Regions from separate parts of the Homo sapiens genome. Here region 2 is linked to region 1. The links come from fine-mapping of genetic effects on gene expression. A gene starts in region 1. The other region holds a variant in brackets. All regions are shown on one strand. Distances are from middle to middle. Region 1 holds the start of SYPL2 (synaptophysin like 2). Region 2 holds the start of AMIGO1 (adhesion molecule with Ig like domain 1).

Evidence for each region. PIP is the estimated chance that this variant, and not a neighbour inherited with it, causes the effect.
Region 2: its variant is the best candidate, but not a certain one, in a credible set for the expression of SYPL2 in spleen (GTEx, PIP 0.51).

Annotation. Positions count from the first base shown.
Region 1 is chr1:109,465,439-109,468,451 of GRCh38, reverse strand. It overlaps SYPL2 (synaptophysin like 2), which reads right to left and starts at 1,906. Exons shown (of 6, transcript NM_001040709.2): 1 at 1,555-1,906; 2 at 1,319-1,393. The coding sequence starts at 1,608. RefSeq lists enhancers at 1,474-1,973, 1,974-2,475.
Region 2 is chr1:109,509,635-109,512,390 of GRCh38, reverse strand. AMIGO1 (adhesion molecule with Ig like domain 1) reads left to right here and starts at 2,664. Exons shown (of 2, transcript NM_020703.4): 1 at 2,664-2,756. LOC105378893 (a long non-coding RNA gene) reads left to right here. Exons shown (of 3, transcript XR_001738179.2): 3 at 1,750-1,789. RefSeq lists a silencer at 2,661-2,756. The variant C/G (reference allele first, on the strand shown) is at 1,279.

The DNA of each region.
Region 1 (3,013 bases):
CAGGTCCCAGAGTTTGCACTTGGGAGCTCCCAGGCTGGCCCGATAATCCCAAATGCACTTTTGCCCCTGGGTTCCAGATTTGATTATTCTCATCCAAACCATGATTTAAGAACTGGTGTCACAGTGCTAATTCTTGTCTCCAAAGCCCTGTAGAACTCAATCCTCCTCAGTATTAATGGTAACTTATTCCCTAGCTGAATTCTGTACTGAGAGCACATTAATTAAGTTATTCACACACCATTTGGTATGTGGATTGTCTAATTTAAAATCTCTTCTGCAATAGTGCACTAAATGCCCCCTACAAGTCTTTATGATTTGAGAAATTGACTGCACCTGTCCACATTCCTAATTTATACCCAGGAGGCCTTAGGCACTGGCCTAGTGAAGCAAGATAGTATTTCCACTAGACTGTAACAGGGGAAACTGAGGACCTGAGCAAGTGACTTTTTCAAGGTCACAAAGTAAGTCTAACCTAGGGCCATATTCTGGCACACCAAACTATTTAGAGCATAAGGAGACCCTAGGAAGGTTCTGATCAACATCTAACTAGTGTTGGAAATTGAAGTCCAGAGAAATGAATTGCCCAAGGTGACATAGCTGGAAAAGGCCAGTCTAGGTCTGGATCCCAGGGCCCCAGCTTCTCAGATCAGTGTTCCATTTTATTCTACATGCCACATTTTAGCCATGCCGTGATTTTTATTCTTATTTTTTTCTTTTATTTAATCATAGAACCACAAGCTCCGTTCATTCATTCATCCACTCCCTCACTCATTTACAGGAACTCGGATTACTCCAGTGACCTCAAAAGGGAACGGCGAGCCGAGAGCCTGTCCCCTGAGCCCAGTACTTGCAGGATCATCCAGGCCCTGGTGGGTTTGGGGGCAGGACGGTTTCCATCGCCTGCTTCCTTCCCTCCTTTGCCCTCTGCGGCTTCCCTCTTGGTGAAGAGCGGACCTCGTCCCCGTCGTCCTTCTCCCCCCTCCCGTCACCAAGGAGTGGTATGTGCAGGATCAGAGTTCTGGAAAGGTTACACCCGGGTCCTCTCGCCCGGGTGAAATGTGAGCGCCCTGGGCAAAGGCTCCTTGCACATAGAAGGACCGAATCCGGGACTCCGCATGCCTCGCTCTTCACCCTCCTGCCACTAAGTCCGGAGAAGCAGCCCCAGCCCGCCCCTCCCCCGCCCACCTGTCGCCGCCCCCCACCCTTCCGCCGTGGCCCGGCCGCAGCACCTCCCCAGCCCCCACCCTGGCTCCATTGCTTCAGGTCAGCGTCACAGCCCAGGCTCCCGAAATAGCCCGGGGCCGGGGCAGCGACTCACCCACTGGAGAACTTTGATGAAGCCCAGCGGCTCCTCCAGCCGCCGCCAGCGCAGCCCCACGAGTAGGCGGTCCACCTGCGGAGACACAGCCGGCCGGGGGGTCAGGGCGGTGGGGAACCCTGGGAAGGCGCTGGTCCCCTTGCCCCACTCACACGCGGTCCAGGGGTGGGATAAGTGTGCAGCCCGACATCTAGGTGGAGAGGGGCGGGTGAGAGTCCTGGGCGCGCAGGGACTACCTGCTGGCGCGGCGACTTGTCCGCCGTGCGGCCGGCGCTCTCGGTCGAGGACATGCTGGCGCGGCGAGCGCTGGGCGCGGCGTGGTGGCTTGGCTCTCTGGCCGGGAGGCGGCGGACACGGCGGGGGAGCGGGGAGCTGCAGGTCCGGGGCAGAGCAGGCGAGCGGGGCCGGAGCGCGAGCGGCCGTCGGTGGGCCGGAGTCCAGTCTGGCTGGCTGGCTGGCTGGGACGCGGGGGCGCTGCTGTTCGTGCTCTCAGAGGCTGCGGCCGCCGCGGTGCCCCGCCGGCAGCAGAAAGCCCCCGACTCGGATTCAAACTTCTGTCAAACTCGCAGCGAACTTGGCCGCCGGGTCACGTGGCGTGCGCTCCCGAACCCTCCTCCCGCCCCCTCTGCTCCCTTTCTCCGCTCGCCGGGCACCTTAAAGGGACCAGAGGCCTCCGTGGTTAGTTCCGCCGCGGGGCGGGGGGGACTCCGGGTCCTCCTCGCCGAAGCCTCCGGGACCGGTCCCCACCGAGACACCGCGGCCGTCGGAAACCCTAGCCAGGCGCACCTGGACGCACAGGCTTCAGGTTTATCCTTCCCTATTTTCCTGGATTGCAAACTGCCCAGCGCCGGTTTTTCTCCTCTTCCATACCAGAATATCCAGAACGTAAAAGATTCTCAAAAGGCACGATCAGGGCTGTGAAACAAGGTTCTAAGCCTCACGATTAACATACCGCCAGTACCGACAAAAGGGCGATAGAATATAAGCTGCTGATTTTTTATCCTGTCTAGCTAGGTATTGTTTTGATTTTTTTTTAAAACAACAAAAGACATTTGTATGTTAGTGATTTAAAAGTTATTGGCCAGGCTTGGTGGCTCACGCCTGCAATCCCAGCACTTTGGGAGGCCGAGGCCAGAAGATCACGAGGTCAGGAGTTCGAGACCAGTCTGGCCAACATAGTGAAACCCCGTCTCTACTAAAAATACAAAAAATTAGCCGGGTGTGGTGATGTGCGCCTGTAATCCCAGCTACTCAGGAGGCTGAGGCAGGAGAATTGCTTGAACCCGGGAGGTGGAAGTTGCAGTGAGCCGAGATCGCGCCATTGCACTCCAGCCCTGGCGACAGTCCAAGACTCTGTCTCCAAAAAAAAAGTTATTAATCTTTAACAAGTAGAAACTTAATCTCCTTTAAAATGGTCATTACCATTTAAATGAGAGTGAAAAAAGGTCTTTGAGGAATGAGGCGCAAAGAATATATTGAAACGTACTGAAAAGTTGACGTCTGGCTAGGCGCGGTGGCTCAAGCCTGTAATCCCAGCACTTTGGGAGGCGGAGGCGGGTGTATCACTTGAAGCCAGGAGTTCGAGACCAGCCTGGCCAACATGGTGAAACCCTGTCTCTATTAAAAATACAAAAATTAGCAGGGCGTGGTGGCACGTGCCTGTACTCCTAGCTACTCCGAAGGGTAAGGCACGAG
Region 2 (2,756 bases), 44 kb before region 1:
GAGGTCAGGAGTTCGAGACCAGCCTGGCCAACATGGTGAAACCCTGTCATTACTAAAAATATAAAAATTAGCTGGGCATGGTAGCAGGCATCCGTAATCCCAGCTACTTGGGAGGCTGAGGCAGGAGAACCACTTGAACCCAGGAGGCGGAGGTTGCAGTGAGCCAAGATCATGCCACGGCACTGCAGCCTGGGTGACAACAGCGAAACTCTGTCTAAAAAATAAAAATAAAGAGGAAAGGGAGAGGAGAGAGCCTGGAACAACACTGGGGTGAAAAGAAAATATGCAACATGCAGATGAGGGGTGGGGTGAGAGGAGCATATGTTTCTCAGGAATATTTGTACAAAATAAAATGATGACATTTCTTTAATAATTATTGAAATGGGTGATGGGTATATGGGAGTTCATTGTACTATTCACTTTTGTGTATGTTTGAAAATTCTCAAAATTAAAAAATAGATGTAACTTCAGAGATGATGTGTGTGATAGCCAGCCTCCAAGATGGTCCCAATGATCCTCTCTTCCTGGTATTTGTGCCCTTGTGTAGTTCTTCCATATTGAATCAGGAATTGCATATGTGACCAAAGTGGAGGTGATATCCATCACTTCAAAGAGCCAGATCACTGTGACTTCTGTCTTGCTGTCTCTTGCATCTCTTGCTCTGAGGGAAGTCAGCTACCGTGTTGTGAGGAAACTCAAGCTGTCTTGTGGAGAGACCTTTATGGATAAGAATAGAGGTTTCCTGCCAACAGCCAGCCACATGAATTTAAGTGAGCCTCTATGGCCCCAGTGAAGCCTTCTAATGACTGTAGCTCCATCTAACGCATAACTGCATGAGAAACTGCCAAGCCAGAACTGTCCACCAGACTGCTCTTGAATCTGACCAACAGACACTGTGAAAGGCAATAAATGTATATTGCTGTAGGAAGTCACTAAGTTTTGGGGTAATGTGATTATGCAGCAATAGATAACTGATGCAATGTGATTTCAAGATTCTTCACACCTTGTCCTCCAAAAAGATTACCCTCCTCATCTTTTCAATGATGCCTGAAATGAACAGAACAGAACATCTTTCTCTTTTTTCTTTCTTTCTTTCTTTCTTTCTTTCTTTCTTTCTTTCTTTCTTTCTTTCTTTTTTTTTTTTTTTTTTGAGACAGGATCTTGCTCTGTCACCCAGGCTGGAATGCAGTGACACAAACATGGCTCACTGCAGCCTTGACCTCCAGGGCTCAAGTGATCCTCCGACCTCAGCCTCTCAAGTAGTGGGCACCACAGGTG[C/G]GTGCCACCATGCCTTTTTTTTTTTTAAGAGACAGAGTCTCACCATGTTGCCCAGGCTGCTCTCGAACTCCTGGGTTCAAGCAATCCTCCTGCCGCAGCCTCCCAAAGTGCTGGGATTACAGGTGTGAGCCACTGCACCTTGCAGAAAGACCTTTTCACACTATGCATAAGATTAACACGCTAATACTCCTTGAAGAGATAATATATTCACTAAAATTCATGGTAAAACATGTGACAGATATAAATTCTTTTTAAAACTCTTAGCAAGCTAATCTACTGAGACATTAATTTCAGTCTTGATCTTGCTGTTATAAGAGACTGGAACAAATAAAAAGGTAATTTCTTATGGTCCACCATCTCAAGAACAGCTAACATCTTGAATGATAAGGTCTAGGCTCTTCCTGCATCTCTCTCTTTCCTCACCCCCAAACCCAAACAACATACACTAGTAACAGCTTCTTGTTGTTTCAGGGGCCACCCTAAAGAAGAAACCCCTCCACCTCCACCACTGGCCTTCATCTTGAGGATTAGGTAACAGAGAAACTATGTTGCAATTGCTCCATAAGGGGAGTGGGGAGCTGGCACTGGTTTAGGAAGAAGGCAAGTGGCCAGACCTAAGGGCTGAATGACTTCCTCCGGGCTGGGAAGGGTTTCGGAGTTTCCAGGAATGGAAATTGTCCCTGGCTTGTATGCAGTCCGTGTGTGTGTGTGTGTGTGTGTGTGTGTGTGTGTGTGTGTGTGTAGCAGGTGGAGTGGGGAGAGGTGCATGAGGTGTCTGTAAAGGGGTGTTCTGGGGCCTGGGCTCACCAAACACCCCCTTTCCCCTCACTCCTGCGCAGCTGGCTTGCAGGCTAAGGAGCTGTGCCCTTCAGTGGTACCTCAAGGGTCATGAACTAGTAGCATCAAGACGGGGGTGGGGTGGGGGGAACCCCTCCCCCAATTTTTGAGACCCCACAGCCACAGAGAGAAGGGAGGGGGAACCTCAGAATGTGACTAATGAATTTCCCGCCAACATTGGCAGGCGGGAGCTGAGCCAGATTTCTTCAATTTGCGAAATTAAAAGACATGTGACGCCTCTTGCCCGAGTAGGTGCAGCGAATTCACTTTAGTTAGACTTTTCCTGAGAGCCGGTCTGTGTAGCGAGAAGGGTGCTGGGAGATGGGGGAATGGGGGATGGAGGAAGTTATAGCGGAGCCTAAGGGGCCAGTGCCGCTCTTCCTGCCAATTTTCGTCTTTAGCTCAGCGTCCGGAGCTCGCTGGTTGAGGGAACGACCCCGCGCGCGTCCGCCCGGCCGGCTCCGACACAAACACACGCACGTGCGCCCCGCCCCCGCCGCGCGCACGCGCCCCGAGGCTCCGGCGGCGGCGACGGGCGCGCGCGCGGTGCTCGCTGCCCCCACGCCGCTCCCTCCGCTGGGATCGCTGCGCCTCCGGCTCCCCGCACCGATCCGCGCCAGGCCTGCGGACCTGGAGGCAGC